Linked DNA regions of Homo sapiens: regions 2, 3 and 4 are each reported to be linked to region 1. The links are microRNA targets in miRTarBase. Many come from high-throughput screens and were not tested one by one. Region 1 holds a microRNA gene; each other region holds the end of a gene's coding sequence.
What was found. The annotated mature microRNA hsa-miR-199a-3p reads ACAGUAGUCUGCACAUUGGUUA and lies in region 1 at 1,530-1,551, opposite strand. An mRNA with a match to its seed (bases 2 to 7 or 8) in the 3' UTR can be bound and repressed. Matches are read on the target gene's strand: a 7mer-m8 pairs with bases 2 to 8, a 7mer-A1 pairs with bases 2 to 7 and ends in A, and an 8mer does both.

Region 1 (5,153 bases):
CCCGGCTGGCCCCAGGGAGAAGCAAAGAGAGGCGGGCCTCTTGGCTATGGACCCCTGCTCTGTGCTGGGCTCATTGGCTAAGAGAGCCCACTGAGGCCACACCTGAGGAGAACCCTACTCCCCGTGAGGAAACCCTCACGCTTGCTATTCGGGTGGCTCTGTGGTCACCCCCATCTAAGGCTCTGAGCGGTGACTTGCCCCACATCATGGAGCGGGGGAGGGTCCCCCTGGGGTGGAGGCTTCCCCAGTGCACGTCTGCGGGCCCATGCTCCCTGACCTGAGGGACACCCCAGCCCGACATCCGAACACCTCCGCTGCAGCCCAGGCCTGATGTCCCCTTGACTGAGGACATTGGGGGTGAAAGGATCATCCCGCTCCACATGAGGCCAGACGCTCATCTCTGGAATGTTCCTGAAACCTCAGGAGCCCTGAGGCTTCTGCGGGACTCTGGGGCGCTGTTTCTAAACCCAGGGTGGTGGAGTCTGCTGAGCCACCATACAAGCATTTCTGGGGTCCCTGTGGAAGCTTCCAGAACCTCAGATCCAGCGAACCTCATGGGGTTGGGATGTGGGAGGAGTGTGGAGCCAGGCGTGGTCTGCAGCCTTCTCCCCGCCTCAGGCACCTCTAGGAACTCACGTGTCCAGATCGGATGGCTCCTCAAAATGGCTGGGGTGGGGTAGGGTGCCCTTTCTCTTTTTCTCCCCTCTTTCCGCCTTGCAGTGAGAAACCAGCCTGCGCTGTGGTGTGTGGGCTGTCAGGCCGGCTGAGAGCTGGTGCCCTGCCTTTCAGTTCAGGGCTGTGGGGACCTTCCAGGGTCCCCTGGGTGGGAATGCCAGGCCTGGGGCAGCGAGCCTTGGAGGAGCCTCTGGGCCTGAACCTCAGCCTGGCAGCTCTCTGCCTGGCAGCATTGCAAGTCTAGTTTTCAGATCTCCTCTTCCTTCACGTGAGGGGCCCTTCGTGTTTTTCTCATCTGAGAGTTGAAAGCCAGAGCCCCCGACCCTCCCGTGGAGCCCCACACTGGAGTCTGGAGCAGCAGTGGGAGAAGGGCCGGGCGCCGGCCGTAATGAGAAACAGCCGACCTGTGAAAGGGGCCCTGTGTGAGCCCCAGACACAAAGCAGGCTCCATTCAGGAGGGGGCAGCCATGGAACCTGACCCCCGCCACCACCCAAGTTAGGATCCCAGCAGGGACCCTTGGAGTCACACACGTGGCAGCCACCCCTGAGGAGGAGGCCACCCTCTTAGATGCCTCAGTGAGACACAAGACATCAATATCTCTTTATTTAAAAAATAAACAAGACATTTACAGCCATGGGGTGGGGATGGCAGACTGATAGGGCCAGGGCCTCCAACCCCTCGGCCGGCCTCGGGGCTCCCTCTGCCTTTCCCCAGTGCCTCTTCTCCCACCCAGGCCCTCGAATCTTCTATGCGAGGCTCTGCCACAGTGGGAAACGGGGTGGTGGAAAATGACACTCACCTGCCGGCGAGTTTGGGGGGCCTGTCTCGACGAGCCGCTCACCCAAGCCCAGCCTAACCAATGTGCAGACTACTGTACACATTGAGAGCCTCCTGAACAGGTAGTCTGAACACTGGGTTGGCGGGGCCGGCTATCCATCCTGCAGAACCCCCCAGGCAGACGCTGGGGCCACCAGGCCAGGCCGTGCCTCAGCACCTCTGAGCAGCCAAGGAAACCACCACTCTTCCCGAGACGATCCGCTCTGTCCCTTCTGACGTGGCAAGGCTGGGGCCGGCTCGCATCTGGAGAAAGTTCTGGGTTTTCAGGAAATCCTAAAGAGTGGGGGAGGCGGAGCAGGAGGCAGGGTTTGGGATCGTGGCTTCTGGGCTCAGGAGGAATGTCTGACTCTTTGGGGGTCGGGGGTGGGGAGGAGGGGCGCACACACACGTGTGTGTGTGTGTGTGCGCGCGCGCGCACGCGTGCGTGCCGGCAGCACCAGGAAGGCGGCCACTGATTTCTCGGCGGAATCGCACTGTAAACAGTTCCAGATGTGGCATTAGCTGGAATGGCCTGTGACTCAGTTACTTGGCCCTGCTGGCTGGAAGCTTCCGGCCGCGTGATATGATAGGGTCAGGGCAGCAAAGGCCCTTGGGCAAACGTCCGAGCCGGGGGCAGGGCTTCTGCAGAGCCCCCTCCCCTAGCCCCTTCTAAAGCCCCCAAAACTCTTCCCCGAAAGGTGGGAGGGACCCAGGCCCTGTGTTACCCAGCCTTGCCTGGGATGACGGGTGCAGGCTTTCTTCATCACCTTCCCTCCCTTGGGTCCGCAGCGGCATCCCTCCCTCCATGGCCACCGGGCCCCTCTCCTATGCTCTGCTCCCTCCATGGCCACCGGGCCCCTCTCCTATGCTCTGCTCCCTCCATGGCCACCGGGCCCCTCTTCCTATGCTCTGCCCTACTTCTTTGCCTAGAGCCTGGCAGGCTAATCCTGGAGCCGCTCACAAGAGCAACCAAAGAAAATCCCGGGTGCTCATGGGCACCAGCTCTGCAGTGGGCACCAAGCTCCTCCATCCTCCTTGGATAGATGAGGAAACTGAGATGAAATGGGAGGTGGCGGGGAAGTGGCTTGCCCGAGGGCACACGGCCAGGAAAGGGCAGGGCTGGCATCACCTCAACCATGCTGAGCTCCTAACGCCCTGAGGCTGAGCCCATGTGCCAAGCCCACTGCTTCATCCTGGCTCCCCTTGCAAAGTCCTGACAGTCCCAGCTGGCCCCCACTTGCCAGGGAGCCCCCGCTGCCTTCTCCACAGTCACTGTGGCTGCTCCTGAACTTGGAGGCGGCAGCCAGGTTAGGCTTTGTGCTGGGGCAGCGCAGTGAGGGGACATGAGAGGAGTTTCCAGAGACGGCCCAGGGAGAAGAAGGGCCAGGGGCACTGTGGGGAGGACTGGGCTTTGGGTCACAGAGACCTGGCCTCTGAAGTCCTGCTGTGGCTTGCGCTGCCTGCCGTGTGGCCTTCGGCAGCCAGCTTCCCTCTCTGAGCTAGGAGGGATCCGTGAACTGAGACCAAGCAGTGCATGGCATGGGTCCCCAAGAGCTGCTGCTGTGGCGGGTGGGCACACACATCACTGGGTGAGTGTGGGACTCCAGGGTGCCACCCCCAGCTCCGTGACTCGCCAGCCCCTTGCCCCTGGCCGAGGGGCCCACCTCTGAGCTGCCTCCCTAGCAGTCTGGACAGCCGTGGCTGGCACTTGGTGCTTCCTGAACAGGGCCAACCTTAGAAAGCAAGTGATAGGGCAGGTGCGGTGGTGCACACCTGTAATCCCAGCACTCTGGGAGGCTCGCTTGAACCCAGGAGTTTAAGACCAGCCTGGGCAACATAGCGAGACCCCATCTCTATTAAAATAATGATAATGATAATAATAAAGAAAGGGAGTAAGGCTTCTGCAGCACCTGGCCCAGGACCTATCCAGCCCCAAGATGTCCTAAAGCGGCCAAGGTTGAAATCCCAGCCCTGCTCCTCTCTGCCTCAGTCTTCCCCTCTGTAAAATGGCATCACAGAGGTAACTCACTCCTAGGCTCGTTTCAAAGATGGAGCCCAGATAAAAGTTCCATTCACTTCGTGCAAGGCGAGGGGCAGTTGTGTTGTGCGTGCCGTCAGCCACATGTCAGCAGTGAACTCAACAGGAGTCCCTGCCCTGGAGAAACTTGAGTCAGTCCAGTGGCAGTCAGCCACCTAGGTCAATAAGCACAGGCAGTCAGGCACCTAGGTCAACAAGCGCAGGATACGTGACGTGTTGTGTGAGGGAAAAGGAGGATGGAGGTGGGGAGGGTGCGGGTAGAGTTAGGGCAGGAGGGAGCCATGCAAGTGTCAGGATCAGGCAGTAGCCCGGTCGTCCGAAGGCCCTGGGGTAGGAACCCAGGTGGGATACTCAGGGAGCATCATGGAGGGCAGCGTGGCTGGGACAGAGTGACGGACGGGGAAGGGCCGGCAGATGGGCTCATATACAGCAGCGACCAGCATTGAGAAGCCCCCGGGGCTGGTGGTGGCGCATGCTACACGCTCTGGCCTGGGGCATCCTGAGTTGTCACGTGGACCGCTCAGGGTGACTCTTTTCCCTCCACCCTCAGGAGAAAGAGAAGAAGTACATGCTGCCTCTGGACAACCTCAAGATCCGTGATGTGGAGAAGGGCTTCATGTCCAACAAGCACGTCTTCGCCATCTTCAACACGGAGCAGAGGTGAGGGGCCCAGGGGCCTGGGGATGGCTCGGGGTGAAGACCAATGGCCTCATTCACACTCCACAACCTTCACTGAGCACTGAGCACCTGGCTGTCAGCAGTCCCTGCCCTTGGGACCCAGCTTTTAGAAAGGGGAGTCACGTGAGAAATAGCAAATGCCAGGGATGCTTCCCGTGCTGGGTCAGAGATGACCTCTCTGGGCAGAGATGAGGATGAAGGCAGGCTCCGAGTCAGTGGGAGCCATGGAGAGTTCTGAGCACAGGGTGACCAGGACCTGGCTCAGGTGCTTGCAGGAGCCCTCTGGTGGCTGAGAGGGAAACAGTATGAGAGGGTGAGAGATGGGGGACGAGGGCAAAGGCCGCTGCCTTGTCCAAGTGGGCGATGATGGGGCCAGAACCCATAGGGAAGGAGGGTGCAGATTCTGGGTAGAAGAGTCAGGCGGAGCCCTGGTGGGCATGGATATGAGAGAGAAAGGCACCAATTGTGACCCTGAGTACGTGGGCCTGAGCTCCTGCACTGCCCAGCTGCTGCCATTGGCCGAGGTGGGGAAGGCAGCGGCAGGTAGGCCTGGAGACAGCCAAGAGCTCCATTTAGGCCATGCCAAGGGAGAGGGTGCATCAGGGAGGCACCTGGGTAGATCGAGGAGTGTGATGTCCAGGAACGAGCTCCAGTCTGGGATGTGAACTGGGCAGTCACCATTGCGTGGATGGTATTTCAAGGAACGAAACCAGATGAGCTCCCAGGAGAGTGAAGCTGGAGAATGGGAGGCCCCAGGAAGCTCACAGTACATCTGTCCCATGAGGCGTAGCTGGAGACTTTAGCAGAGACACTGCTCTCAGGAAGAAACCCAGCTGGCAGGAGGGCTCTTCCCATGCTCACACAATCACGCTCATCCAGGAAGCAGGGCCCACCTGAGTCAGGGATTAGCTGTCAGTAAAGGCCCGGTGGTACCCTGAGACCTGT
Region 2 (5,153 bases), not on the chromosome of region 1:
TAATCACTTGAGGTCAGGAGTTCGTGACCAGCCTGGTCAACGTCACAAAACCCTGTCTCCACTAAAAATACAAAAATTAGTCAGGTGTGGTAGCATGCGTCTGTAATCTCAGCTACTTGAGAGGCTGAGGAAGGAGAATCATATGAACCCAGGCAGTGGAGGTTGCAGTGAGCTGAGAATGCACTGGTGCACTCCAGCCTGAGCAACAGAGTGAGACTGAGTCTCAAAAAAAAAAAAAAGAATGCCTATCATGCCTATCAGCAGGTGAATGGATAAACAAATTGTCTATGTCCATACAATAGAACACTCAGCAATACAAAGGAGCAAACTTTTGATAAATCCAACAACATGGATGAATCTCCAAATAATTATGCTGACTTAAAGAGGCCCAGACAAAAAAGTTTATAGTATATGATCCTGATTATATAAAAATTTTGAAAATGCATACTAGTGACAGAGCAGATTAGTGGCTGCCTGGGATTGACTACAACAGGCCATGAGGAAACGTTAGGAAGTGATGGTGATAGGTAGTTGATTGCCGTGATGGTTTCATGAGCATATGCAAGTGTCAAGAGTCACCAAATTGAACATTTTATGTATGCTCAGTCAATTATACCTCAATAAATCTTTTTGTAAAACCCAAGGTCATCAGGCCCATAAGTAGCATTTCCACCACAGGGCTCTCTATCAGCTCCATGGGTGATTCAATCAAGTGTTCTCAATGGGAATTATCCAAATACATAAAAAGCACCCAATGTTAATTTGCCAGCAAAATGCAGATGTCCCACCTTTCAGTATAAATCTTTCCTCTTATCAAACTCCTGGGGAGAAAATTAAGTCTACATATTAAGTTACCTTTCAAGTTAATGTCCAAAGACCAAAATAATCAAAACCCAGAATCAAATTCTCTCACTGTAATAAGGTAAAAGTTCAATAAAATTAAAGCCCTTCCCAGTTTCTTATTGGATTCACTCACAGGCAGAAATGTTCTTAATGCCTCTCAGGATTCCTTCAGCAGCTGCAGCCTGGCTGTCTCTTTTTGGATATGGATACAACACATTCATTTGGCACTTCAGAAGTTAAATTAGTTCAATAACTCTATGGTGTGCCTCAACTTACAAAAGGTCTGGAGAGTCAATAAAACACCCAAGGTAATTACAATACTTGCCTTATACCCACCAAATTTAAAAGGCAGTTATCCTGTACAAAATTATGCTCCCAAAACTCAGTAGTATTTATTGCCAAAGACTACATGTAGCAGAAACTCTATAGCAGGAACTCATGAATCAGTAGGAAGGAAGATAACCGGTGATGGCTTTAGCCTTATCAGAATGCCAGTCACATGAGCTGCACACTTAAACTAAGTTGGAAGAAATTTGTCAGCAACAAGTTAAACTTTTCACCATGCATTTAGCATGGTACTCTATCTTCTCTTTCAGAAAGTGACATCTGAAACACTGATGCTATCTTACCAAGTATAGAATTTGGAGTGGTCCAGTCCCAATCACCAAGTCAAAGGAGACCTGATCTTTTCCCAGTATGTTCAAATATCTTCAGATTCAAAATTTTCTCTTTTACACAGCATTTCAATGACTCTCAGAACAATTTAGACCTTGAGCTTTTCTAGAACTTTATATTGCAACCAAGGCACATGTCTTTAAAAGTAGCAAATACTGATACAGTCATTAACATCTAGCATAGCTATGAATATTTCTTCTTATATCATTAAATCCTTGCCACGAATAAAATTGTTTTCTGGTGTCGAGTTAGCAGCATCTGATGAGTGAGGCCTTTGCTGCTCACACATGCATATTTAATGTAGGCCAAGGTCAAGCTGCAGTAGCCTGCATGAGACCACTTGCACATGCCAGTGCCTTTGTTGATGCCAGCACCACTACAGTAGCTTGCTAAGCCTCACCTTGGGCTGGCATCTGGTGAGGACATCCATGAGGCCAGCATTTGGGTGAGCCCCACTTCCAGATTCTCTGTCTTTGCTGAAGCCAATATGTCTCCATCACCCTCACTCAAACTCTGCTTCATTGAGGCCTGCGCATATGTGCTTAAAGCCCAGTATTGCACATTGTCTCTATAGAAATTACCAATTTCTCTGGACAAAGATATCCTAAACTTTTAGGTCAAAATCCCACGTGCCTTAAGTCTTAAAGCCTCTTGCCAAAACTGCAACTAAAAGCCTACTTCACACTTACAAAGTCAAATTAATAGCCCTAATAGAAGCCTCTACAAACTACCAAGATCAAAGCTCCCTACGTATACATTAAGGTCTGAAACCAGAAACCATAAGCTATGGCCACAATTAAGCCTCTCTCTTTCTATGTTGTGCTCCTTCAAATTTTATTCCTCTTTTATTTCTTGATGTACTAACCCATATAGCACAAATTTCTATATATATTTTCCAAAAATATCCATCCCCCTTCTAACATTTATCAATATAGCCTGTTCTTCACTTATAGTATTAGAATAGCAATTAAGAGTACATGCACTCTGCTGACAGCCCAGGTCCTCCTCCCAGACATCATTTATTACTTTACCTCCCCTGGGTGGAACAAGTGGGACAAGAAGTAAAGATACCATGAGTGTTTGGATGATGGTGTCTTCTCCACATGGAAGGAAACAATAGGGAACCGATAGGAACTATTACCTCCATCAATAATAATATATTCTAACTACTTATTAGATATTTAAATAATACCAAGCTTGCTTCCCTTTGTAACTTTCCTCATGCTCTTACACTTCTAATCTTTTTAACCTCGAAGGCTTTCCTTAAATGCTATTGCACACATGAAACTTTCTCTGATTTCTTAAACCAAACAAAACCTCTTTCTTCTCTGAGGCCCTGGTCCAACATTTTTTAAGTGTGGCGAGGAGCAACCCAGCAGAATCACTGGGGTTGCCTGTTAAAACATCCATTACTAAGCCCATCTACAGTATCCAAATTCCTTAGTGTAGGGTCCTCAAACATGCCTCTTAAGAAGCCTATAGGCCAGGCACAGTGGCTCACACCTATAATCTCAGCACTTTGTACGGCCAAGGTTGAGCCATAAGGATCCCTGAGGCCAGTTCAAAACCAGCCCAGGCAAGGCTGAACTTGGCAAGACCTCATCTCTACAGAAAATGTTAGCCAGGTGTTGGCACGTACATGTAGTCCCAGCTACTCGTGAGGCTGAGCAGGATAACTTGAGCCCAGGAGTTTGAGGCTGCTGTGAGCCATGATCACACCACTGCACTGCAGCGTGGGCGGGAGACTGTCCACCACCAAGATAATAAAAAAAAAAAAAACGAAAAAGGAAAAGCTTCCTGGGTGCTTCATTGATAACACTAAAATCTTAACCTTTTGCTTTATCTGATTGTCACTGATTACTTTTTCCCCCATTATACCATTACTTGGCATTTATTCCTCTACAAGAACTTTGGAATTTTAAAGAGTAACTCCTTAATATAAGTTTTGCATAAAGTAGCTTTTAACAAAGTCGTTAAAATGAATATAATTTGACTTTCACTTGTCTCTCAAAAGGACTAGATCTCCTTCCATGTTTTGTCATGATTAAGTGTCTAGAAGTGAAAATGCACAAAAATTGTAAAGCAATTTACTGAAATAATTTATCCTCCATCATGATGTGATGTGTCTTCACCAATGTAGCCAAATTTAGGCTTTCTGGGCTGCTTACTTTAAATGCAATATAGTGCAATGCAAATTTCTAAAGCATTGCTTTTCTATGCAATGAAGATTAAGTTCAGTGTTATCTAAGCACTTTCTACTGATCTTGAAATGCAGAATAAATTAGTAGACTGAAAGAGCTCCCTAAAATCTTAATGCAATTTCAGACTGTATTTGCTATCATTTATAAAATTTTATTATTCAATATTTGGCAAGTATTATTGGTCAGCCCTTTTTGCTTACAATGACTATATATATATTTCAAGCCTTTCTCATTCTTCTGCAATTTGCAAAGCATGAGAAGCAGTTATCCCAGTGGCTTATCTCAGCTCACAAGGGTACCAACAAGGGAGACAGAGATAATGTTCTTAAAGTATAGGGTCCATAGGAACTGGAAAGCTTAATTCTTGCTGTGACACTGTGGGGTTTCCATCATTATTTAAAAGACCTTAGACTAACAAGCCATGTACATCCATTTAAGGGAATGTTTATAAATATCAGACTTTGAGTTCACTGCTTTGTGAAGGTCGCTTTGTTATATGGTGAGGGCAGTTTATTTCAGCACCCATCACCCTGTAACATGTACTTAAAATAAATAAAAAGTCCAAGAGGAGTCTTTGCCTCCCTCATCATTAAAATAAATTTTAAAACAACGTAACTGTTTACTAAATTGAAATATTTCATTGAAATGCTTCATTGATAGCTCTGATTCCTTATTTTTAAAAAATTTATTTCATATAAATCTCATATGGTACAAAAGTATTACATGCTTGGGCCTGTCTTGCAAAATAAGAGGTTCTTTCAGTTCTTCAGGCCAACCTTCCTTCAGAGGCAAATAAATAAGAAACATGTAGAACATATTTAGAAAATTTTTTACCATAATAAAAATATGTGAACATCTTATATTTAGCATAGTTTAGCAATCCAGTTTATGTCGACAAATTTAGTTCACTGCTGGGAGGCACATGTCACAGAAGAACCTAATAGGCAGCAGATATTTTAACCTGTAGGAACAAAATGTTTAACATTTTTCTTGTATTTTTTGAAGAAGGTACTCCATTTGTACATTCAAGTTTGGTTGGCCCTTTTTAGTCTTTTTGTTCAGTATTTTAAACACTTCCATTTTCTTCTTTTTGTACTGCCTTTGGGCTTCTTCTCTCTCCTGTTTTCTCCTCTCGAATTCCTAAAATTATTAACATATGTAACTTTCATTAGCAACAAACAGTAGATACAGTTCAGAAATTGTCTTGAAATAGCTATTACTAAGCAAACACTCTAAGGTTTGTCTCTTCTATTTTGCAAGATGTGCACTGTTTCTCCTAATTGAAGCAAAGTACCCTCTTTGCCTTCATATTATAATGACCCATGGTATAACAGAGAATTTTCATGATCACAAAGCCCCAGCTCTATATAAACAAAATTTTAAAAGGACATTAAATGTTTTACAGCATAATGGTCATTACTGCACTTCATCTGA
Region 3 (5,153 bases), not on the chromosome of region 1:
GGGCCAAGCTGTGAGTGAGTTGGGCTTAGGGATCCATAAACCCAGAGATGCAGACGCCCAGCTCAGATGGAGCATCACTCCCACATACAACAGAACCCAGAGATGCAGATGCCCCACTCACTCCGATAGAGAATCAACCCCATATACAACAGGATCCAGAGATGCAGACACCCCACTCACTCAGATAGAGAATCAACCCCACATAAAATAGAACCCAGAGATGCAGATGCACCACTCACTCAGATAGAGAATCAACCCCACATAAACTAGAACCCAGAGATGCAGATGCCCCATTCACTCAGATAATCAACCCCACATACAACAGGACCCAGAGATGCAGATGCTCCACTCACTCAGATAGAGAATCAACTCCACATACAACAGGACCCAGAGATGCAAACACCCCACTCACTCAGACAGAGAATCAACCCCACATAAACTAGAACCCAGAGATGCAGATGCCCCACTCACTCAGAGAATCAACCCCACATAAAATAGAACCCAGAGATGCAGATGCACCACTCACTCAGAGCAACAACCCCACATACAACAGAACCCAGAGATGCAGATGCCCCACTCACTCAGATAGAGAATCAACCCTACATACAACAGGACCCAGAGATGCAGATGCCCCACTCACTCAGATGGAGCATCAACCCCACACACAACAGGACCCAGAGATGCAGATGCCCCACTCACTCAGATGCAGCATCAACCCCACACACAACAGGACACAGAGATGCAGATGCCCCACTCACTCAGATGGAGCATCAACCCCACACACAACAGGACTCATGGAGGCAGTCACCCAGCTCACTCAGATGGAGTGTTAACCCCACGCACACAAAACCCAGAGATGCGGATGCCCAGCTCACTCGGATGGAGTATTAACCCCATGTACAACAGAACCCCGAGATGCAGATGCTCAGCTCACTGAGATGGAGCATCAACCCTACACACAACAGGACCCATGGAGGCAGATGCCCAGCTCACTCAGATGAAGCATCAACCCCATGCACAACAGGGCCCATGGAGGCTGACATCCAGCTCGCTCAGATGGAGCAGGAGCTGCTGAAGGGTGTTTTGGCCCAGGACTGGAGCAGAAGGCAGTAGCCCTGAGGCTTACAGAGCAGACCCTATGGCCACATGCTTGGACTTAGGCCTCTGCTTGGCTGCCTGAAGGCTGCAGGGAGCTCCTTCTCTGTCCTCAGGTTCCTTTCAGGGCCTGTGCCAGTCAGCGCCTCCCCTGGCATAGGTCTTGTGCAATTTCTAATGACAGCATGATTCGGAGACTATAATAGCTACACCTTCCCCCAAAGCGAGGAAAGATCTAACTGTACAGGCCGCTGTGAAACTGGAACATCGGAGGAAGAGGAGCTAGAAAGCTTACCAGGCCGATGAGGATGCTTGCTGTCAACTGTTCCAGCCCCACTCGGAACAAGCTGCCACCAACGCATGGCACCCACAGCCTGCGTGGGCCTCGCCGCCCCATCCTGCCTTCCCTGTGCAGCAACCAGGGCTTGGAGACATCTTCGCACCATCCTGGGACTGGGCAGCGCCACCCCCTGGGTGCTCTTCTCTGCCCTGGCTCGCTCCCTTCCTGCCTCCGAGAACTCTGCATGTGGAGCCCAGCCCCGTCCTCCCCAGGACCGACTTGCTGGTGTAGTCGACCAGCAAGAGGGGCTTCAGTAAAGAGGGGAAGGCTGCACTGAAAACATGTTCTGGTTAACTTGGTGAAAGAAGAAGGGTGCTCCACTGAAATCCAGACAAGGAAGCCTGAAGTTCTTTTCCAGGGAAAAGATGCTTGGGCCTGACCGGTATATCTCTGACGGCAATTCTCGTCTGTCTTTAAGCATCCCACTCAACTTCGCGCCACTGAAGCTCCTTACCCTGAATTCCACCCCCAGCCCTTTTTTTTTTTTTTTAACATTTATTATTTTGTAAAGGGCAAGAACATGTTAACATTTCCTTGCCACTTTACTTCTCACAGAAGCTAGCCATTCAGGTTGCATATTGCTTTCTGATTTGATATACATTATCTGTGCAAGTAGACTTTCTTCTACTGGCAAGGACACAATTGCATTTGTTTGTTAAAACTCAGCACCAGATGCTGCAGCAAAGGGACCTGCCAGCCAAAGGTGGAGCTAAGTTCCAGGTGCTCCTGTTTCCAGTTACAGTAAGGTGCAAAACAAATACCATTTTTTTGAAAAAAACAAAAAAAAATACTACATATTATTAAAGATGTATTTTATTGCATAGCAATCGATAAACGTAAGGTGTCACAGGTTTGGAATGTGAAAAATAATTTTGATCCCAAACCTCCTTTCCTGTACTTTATCAGTAGAGTAAAAACATTTGTTCTACTTAAACAGATGAAGCTCTCCAGTGAGTCATCCACATTTATGGAGCCTGAAACCAGTGTGCTCTGTGCAACCCCCAGTGCTTTAAAGTGGGATTGCACCTGTGCTTTCGTAAATTACTCAACTGCTGATCATTTTGGCTTCTATGACTTTCCCTAAAATGAGGACAACATATCAAGACAATTGTTAACAATGCACTTTAAGGCATTGAATATAAACTTACTACACAGTTAAAAATAAAGTGAAGGTTGTTTTTACAAAACCAAAATATAACTGTTCCAAAACACAGACACACACATGCAGAATGAAAATCAAAGACCACACGTCATGGTTTCACACTGACATGTCATCAGCATCAAATTCATGCAAAGCTAGCAATACTGTTACACTACTTTATCACAGGCAAACTGAGATTCAATCACACGGCCCCATATTAAGTCCAAATAACATATAGATGTTTAATTAGTCTGTTCTCACACTGCTATAAAGATACTACCTGAGACCTGGATTACTTTATAAACAAGAAGTTTAATTGACTCAGTTCCACATGGCCGGGGAGGCCTCGGGAAACTTACAATCATGGCAGAGGGAGAAACAAGCACCTTCTTCACAAGGCAGCAGGAGAGAGACAGTGACAGCAGGGGAAACTGCTGTCTTTAAAACCAGCAGATCTTGTGAGAACTCCCTCTCTATTATGATAACAACATAGGGGAAACCACCCCCATGATCCCATCACCTCCCATCAGGTCCCTCCCTTGACACATGGGGATTACAATTTGAGATGCAATTTGGGTGGGGACACAAAGCCAAACCATATCAGATGGTGAAAATGTTATACTAAAAATGCACAGTCTCTACAAACTCCCTGGTTTCTTTTCTGTCAGTGAAGTCAAATATCTACACAACGGCCCTGGACAATGCTACAGGGAGGACACATTACCTTAATCATCTTTCTGTCCCACTTCTCAGCCACAAAGGCCCGAGAGGGGCATGAACTTGGCTGGTGAGCTCTGCACCTCAACATTCTCTTCCCAGGCTTGTCTAATCAAAGATAACTGTTCCAATTACATTTTGAATTGGTAACTTTCAGAAATGCACAATTAGGCATGCTATCCAGATACAATGCACAATCAGTATTCCCTTATTGAACACCTATTTTTAAATATCTGGGTCTCTAACCACCTGTCATTCTTAAACTACAGGTCCACATTTGACAGGAACCAAGAGCCACTGGGCAGGAGCTATTTTATAAAGTGGATATTGCAAAGTAACAGTATGCCTGTCCTAACAGAACTGGGAGCATTGTGTTCCCAAGCACCTAAATCAACAGAACACCAGGACATTAGGAAAGACACGCTTCTCCATGGAGTGTTGACTTCAGGGCTTCCATTCTGTTTTCAGTAAAGCAGCCCATAACTTTGCTAGAGAGGGCCTAGCCTCTTGTGAATTGGTTCATCAAACTGAGATACAACGTATTTTCCAAGAGCTTCCTTCCAAGGTCTCTCTGCCCCAGCACAGCTGACATTTCATGTCAAGTCATTGTCTGTGATGCGGCTGACCCAGGCACACAGGATTTTATGCATCACCCCGGGCTCCACAGGAGAAGCCAGGAGCACCACCCCCTCCAGTGACAACCAGGTGTCTCCAAACTTTGCCCCATGTCTTGGAAGGTGAAAACACCCTCTACTGCGAACTGTGGCATGCACTAGAAAACACAGCACGAGGAGGAGGGCATGGTGCCCATGTACAGGTGGCACTGTTTATTATTGAGTTTCATATTTTATATTGTGTATTTTATATTTATAATTAGTACTAGTTACACATATGACATGGACTTCTTCAAATCAAATTCCCAGTTATGAAGCTCTGCAGAGACCGTTCCCACAGCCTGACTACAAAGATCAGGCACCTGAAGACGCATGTCCTGATGGATACATTCAGTGCTGGCTGAAAAGCCAACTTCAGTGTGTGCCCTACCACTGTGGATATTTAAATAAAACAACGGTTTTTCAAACCATGAGTCAGCTGGAAGGATGCCCACGCCACGCACACTGCAGCACTGGGAGCTGCACTGGGTGGACGGGAAGGACGCAAACTCCAAGCAGCTGCTGCCCCTCAGTCTTCTTTCCTTCTCCTTTTCTTTTCCTTTCTTCTCTCTTGTGCATTCTTCAGGTCAGTCATCACATTCAAAGTCTTCCATACCCACATAACCTAAACACAATTGTTTGAGACATGTTTAGATTTGAAAAACATACACATGAAGAAAGACAACTGAAAGTGTCATCTACGTACCACAATGATCATGGCATTCACCAGCAGTGGGGCTGAAAATACTATAGAAATGAACATCCCCCTGGAGTCGAAATACTGGTATTTCGAAAATAATCTGTTTAAAAAACAAAAACAAAAAATTACTAGGCAATACAACCAAAAAGTTCTAGTGACACCGTCTATTTAGATAAGACTTTGGAGAGAGCTGATGTGGACTGAGGTGGGAGCAACACCCTCACTGGGCCCACCCTTGGGAGCAGCGGTAATCTCCACTGTACTGTCCCAAATGCAATGAATGCTCATTATGAAGAAAACACACTGGGTCACAGGACAGGGAGACACCACCCAGCAGCACAGGAAAGACCCCGAGGCCTCCCCCAGCAGAGAGACGTCACCCTGCAAGCCCTCTGGGTCATCAGCAGCACATCTGACCTTAGCTGGAAGACACTGATGACTTGAAATCCTTAAAACCTACAGAGTAACAACGTCAATAATCCCCTCCCCGTAAATGACAAAGGGACA
Region 4 (5,153 bases), not on the chromosome of region 1:
TGAGTAGCTGGGACTACAGGCATGCACCACCATTCCCAGTTAATTTTTTTTTTCTTTCTTTTTTTTTTTTTTGGTACAAAGAGTTTCGCCATGTTTCCCAGGCTGGTCTCAAACTCCTGGGCTCAAGTGATCTGTCTGCTTTGGCGTCCCAAAGTACTGGGATTACAGAAGTGAGCCACCATCCCTTGTCTATTTTAGTATTTTTTAATGTGGCTACTGGAAAACAAAATTACATGAGGCTTGCATATTTCCATTGGACAGCACTGTTCTAGAACTGTAAAATACAATATTTGAATTCAGAGAGGTGAAAATACTAAAATTAATTAATAAATTAATAAGATTCCAGGATGCTACTAGGTCAATATACAAAAATCAGTTGCATTTCTAACCCTAGCAACAAACAATTAGAAAATAATTTTTTTTTTTTGAGACAGAGTCTCACTCTGTTGCCCAGGCTGGAGTGCAGTGGCATGATCTTGGCTCACTGCAACCTCTACTTCCTGGGTTCAAGTGATTCTTGTGCCTCAGCCTTTCCAGTAGCTAGAATTACAGGTGCACACCACCACTCCTGGCTAATTTTTGTATTTTCAGTAGAGATGGGTTTTCACCATGTTGGCCAGGCTGGTCTCGAACTCCTGACCTCGAGAGATCCACCCACCTCGGCCTCCCAAAGTGCTGGGATTACAGGTGTAAGCCACTGCGCCTGGCTGGAAAATAAATTTTTAAAAGGCCATTTATAATAGCATAAAACTCAGACTTTCAAGAATAAACTTAATAAAAGGCTAAGCTCTATGCACTGAAAGCTGTAAACATTGCTGAGAGCAGCTAAAAAAGAACTAAATGAAGAAATGTTTCTGGATTGTGCAGATGTCAATTTTTGAGAAATTAATCTATAGATATATACTATCCCAATGGAAATTCCAGGAAACTTTTGTAAAAATTGACAAGCTGATTTTAAAATGTATATGAAAATGGAAATGTCCTATATTAGTCAAGACATTCTTGAAGAATAAAGTTGGGGGACTTACCCTGATTTCAAGACACAATAACACTCCAGCATTAGTCTTATTAATTTTGTTAATTTATTGTGGCATTTAGTAATTTAGTTAATTAGTGTAGTTATTAATTTAGCATGTGTTAAGATAAATAGGGCCAGGTGCGGTGACTCACACCTGTAATCCCAACAATTTGGGAGGCCAAGGCAGGAGAATTGCATTTGCCCAGGAGTTTGAGACCAGACTGGACAACACAATGAGACCATGTCTCTATAAAAAATTAAAAATATTAGCAAGGCATGGTGGCATATGCTTGCAGTCCTAGGTACTTGGGAGGCTGAGGCAGGAGGATCACTTGAGCCCAGGAGTTTAAGACTGCAGTGAGCTATGACTGTACCACTGCACTCCAGCCTGGGTGACAGAGGGGACCCTGTCTCTAAAAATAAATACATAAATAAAAATAAAAATAAATTAGATTGCCTCTGGGAGGAGGGGATTCTGGACTAGAAGTAATTAAAGAAACTTTCAGAAATGTTGGTAGAGTCTATAACTTTATTTGGCTGATGATTACAATGATATATATATACATCTGTCAAAACTCATTGATCTGTACATTTTATTTTATGTAAAATAATTGTGTAATAAAATATGTAACATAATTTTTTAATAAAAAGCAACAGAGTGGAGTAATCCTGGCATGGCAGCCCCAGCATGTTGGTTGGGAATGTAACTGTACAATGGAGAGAGATGAACTCTGCGACACACTGAGCTGAGTTTATATCCTTTCTTTACTACTTATCAGTGGTGACCTTGGGCAAATTGTTCACTCTCTGCAAGCCTTAGTTTTCTCATCTGAAAAATGGTGCTGGTGCTAGCACTTTACTTCACAGATTTGCAAGGAAGAGCTAATGAGTATAAGTAGTTAAAGTATCTAGCATGGTTTCTGGTAGTTTACAGTCCCACAGAAGAAAACATGCCCTAAGGGTAAGCGGTTATCTGCCAAGAAAAAAGGTGGACAGTGAAGGGGGAAAAAAAAGTCTTCAATTATGAGAACCTTGAAGATTTTCAGGTCTTGAAGATGCCTTTTATTGACCCTTGCTTTGGTAACATGATCTGGGAAAGTAGAATCCTTCCTGCTCTAAATCATCTACTCTTCGGAAATATATAAATTCCCCCTCTACAGTAGCAGAGCTCCACAAGAAGCCTGCCCAATTTTTCCAAAGTTATTTTTTTGATATTGGTGCCCAGATGTAGGTGGCTAAAGTGAGCAGGGAAAGCTAAGTACAGCCCTCCAGTGAAACACAGAAAGTACAAGAGTCTTGAAACAAACTCCAGATCACCCTGTGGCTCTGGGAATCAAACTTCAGAGGTCATCAGGCTGGCGCTTCTGTTATGGTTTATGTCCTGGCCAGTTATCCCATGAGACCACATCTCTTGTTCCATACAGGCACGGACCAAAGGCCTGGGTTCTGCTTGACTCCACTGCTCACTGGATGACCAAGACATGTTCCACATCTACAAACTAGAGGTAATACTGGCTTGCTTTAAAGTTGTAAGGGGAGCAACTTCCTTATGGCATATATTTATGATTTAATACTATGGTCTTTGCTATAACATTGTGGATCGGAATAAGAACTATGCGGCTGAATATGTCCATATCTTTTGTTCAACTGTAGTTGAAGATCTTGTGAGCCTGGGATTAACAGTAATGGCAAAATTTTATTTCCATCAACAGATCTGTATAATTTCTATGGTTAGAAAAAAAAACCCTATATAATTTGGCATGCTTATTGTTTTGCCTCTGTAACAAATAACTCAAATTCATATTTATTGATAAAGAGTTATTTATTTAAGAAAGATGCGTGAAAGCATCTACTCCTTCTAACTCCTTCACATAGTTTTCGGTTCTGATGTATCCTTAACTGCCTTATCATCTTACACTGAGTGTTAATCTGTAACCCCTGATAAGTCCTTGGGGGTAAGAATCTTAGAATATCTATTTATTGAGTTGTAATGGTGCTTTATATATTCTGGATACTAGACCCTTATCAGATACATGGTTTGAAAATATTTTTTCTCTTTCTGTTGGTTGTATTTTCACTTTTTTGATAATGTGCTTTGAATTATGTCTTAAATATTTTATTGTGAAAATCTTGAATTTTGATTATGTCCAACACATTTGTTTTTTTAAACAAGAATCTTAGAATATCTATATATACACGAATACACTAGACATATTAAAACATTAAATAATTTTATTCTTTTCTCATTTACAGTAGCCCAGTGGTAAGCATGTTAGAAAACCTGAAGAAATTTAAAAGTTTTTGGTTTACAAAAAGCATGTATAAAAATACCTGTTCAGACAAACAAAGATCTGATCATTACATTGCCCAGCTTTAAGAATGCCAAAAATAACTAAAATACTGTCAATCAAATGAGAGGGCTACATGGGTTTATTAAAGTTTATTTTAACAATTTTAGCTAAGCAGAATGTGCTAATGTAATTCAAGTTACAGTTACTGCCAGATAACATAAGAGAAAACATTGTGTGTGGCCACTTAAGATTATGCCTCAAACAGATACTGTTTCGTGCGCAGAACAGAGTTGGGGAACACAGCTGGGTTAAGTTTCAATGGTAAGCAGCAATAAAGATCAAGAAAATCCCCAACTTTTCTAATAACCGCTATACAATATGAAAAAAAAAATAGTATCTATCACCACCTCTTAACAATGGACATCAAAATTAGGATTGTAGGTTTTCTAAGTGCTTGGATAAAAAATGCGAACACAGTTAAGATCCTTGGTTAATTATCTTTGATTTTTCAAAACCCCCAAAACATAAAATATTTTGCTTGCTGGTGCATTAACCCATTAGCAATAACCTGAGCTATCTTTTCCTCACCAAGTATTTTGACAGTGCAAAATGTTAGTAGTCTCAGTAGACGCTGCTCACCACATTCTGTCATTGCAGCCTGATGATGAACCATGTCAGGGAGGTATCACTGCCAAGAGAAATGCACAGCAGCCTAAAAGATACATGATTCACTAGCATGCTGGAGTGTCAAAGGTAGATAGGCAGTTTTATGCAAAATGTGAAATATATAATTCAAAATGCCCACAAGCTAACAGAAAATACAGTATTGAATCTTTTAATATCAAAACAAATACTTATTTTGCTACTTTGAACAGTATTCCACATGGACAAGCAGATCGCGATGCTCAGTGGCTGGATACTGTATATTGCACTTGGGACATTCCACCAGGCTTTCATTGAGTGCAGCAGTGGGACTTTTTGGTGAGGCGGCAACTTTTTCTCTGTTTTCAGTCTCTCCTTGGAAAGTGACTAATGGCTCTGTGATGGCAAACTCATGAAGCTGTTTCTGAAAAATAAGTTTCAAATAATAGAATTTGTAAATAGGGCCAATGTTCAGCTTTTTTTTTTTCTTTTTTTGAGGCAGTCTCACTCTGTCACCCAGGCCAGAGTGTAGTGGCACAAACATGGCTCACTGCAGCCTCGACCTCCCAGGCTTAAGCAATCCTCTCACCTCAGCCTCCTAAGTAGCTGGGACTACAGGCACATGTCACCACGTCCAGATAATATTTCTATTTTTTGTAGAAATAGAAAATTCTACAAAAAATTAATTCTATGTTGCCCAGGCTGGTCTCAAACTCCTAAGCTCAAGTGATCTGCCCACCTCAGCCTCCCGAAGTGTTGGGATTACAGGCATGAACCACTGCACCCAGCCTGTTCAGCAATTTTAACTGTTCCATAAGTATTATAGCTGCTTCAGCACTGTAGACAGATTTTCTTTTGAATTTCAGCTCATCAGTATTATGAGGGTAATATATGAGGTAGTTGTGAATTTATCCAGATAACTACTGTAATTATCCAAATTACCCAGATATGGGAGTTGGGTGTATATATGAATATGTTTTATTAGGACACAGAGTCGAATATTAGGTAGGCCTATATGCAAGGCTGATTAAATTTGCTAGTTTTGTAAAACAGAGGCAACGTCAGCAATAAAGTACTACATGGAAATTAAAGGCAGCAAGCAATTTTAGCAGCTCAAACAGCTTATACACAGAAATGACTAAGATATTCTATCATACCTTTGAGACTTTCCTTTTTTGTGTTTTTTTTCTAAGAACTTGGAG

Region 2: the mRNA of CCDC59 is a reported target of hsa-miR-199a-3p. The part of its 3' UTR that is shown has no 7-base or 8-base seed match.
Region 3: miRTarBase lists TMEM18 as a target of hsa-miR-199a-3p. Seed matches in the 3' UTR shown: 7mer-A1 at 2,338-2,344.
Region 4: the mRNA of CEP55 is a reported target of hsa-miR-199a-3p. Seed matches in the 3' UTR shown: 7mer-A1 at 3,931-3,937.

Annotation. Positions count from the first base shown.
Region 1 is chr19:10,815,900-10,821,052 of GRCh38, forward strand. MIR199A1 (microRNA 199a-1) reads right to left here and starts at 1,597; the gene lies at 1,527-1,597. DNM2 (dynamin 2) reads left to right here. Exons shown (of 21, transcript NM_001005361.3): 16 at 4,081-4,190.
Region 2 is chr12:82,348,454-82,353,606 of GRCh38, forward strand. It overlaps CCDC59 (coiled-coil domain containing 59), which reads right to left. Exons shown (of 4, transcript NM_014167.5): 4 at 3,850-4,859. The coding sequence ends at 4,698. Among named protein-coding and RNA genes, the nearest start is that of CCDC59, 7.4 kb to the right of the region's middle.
Region 3 is chr2:665,105-670,257 of GRCh38, forward strand. TMEM18 (transmembrane protein 18) reads right to left here. Exons shown (of 5, transcript NM_152834.4): 4 at 4,653-4,746; 5 at 1-4,571. The coding sequence ends at 4,476. Among named protein-coding and RNA genes, the nearest start is that of TMEM18-DT, 9.7 kb to the right of the region's middle.
Region 4 is chr10:93,527,172-93,532,324 of GRCh38, reverse strand. CEP55 (centrosomal protein 55) reads right to left here. Exons shown (of 9, transcript NM_018131.5): 9 at 3,233-4,375. The coding sequence ends at 4,172. Among named protein-coding and RNA genes, the nearest start is that of CEP55, 33 kb to the right of the region's middle.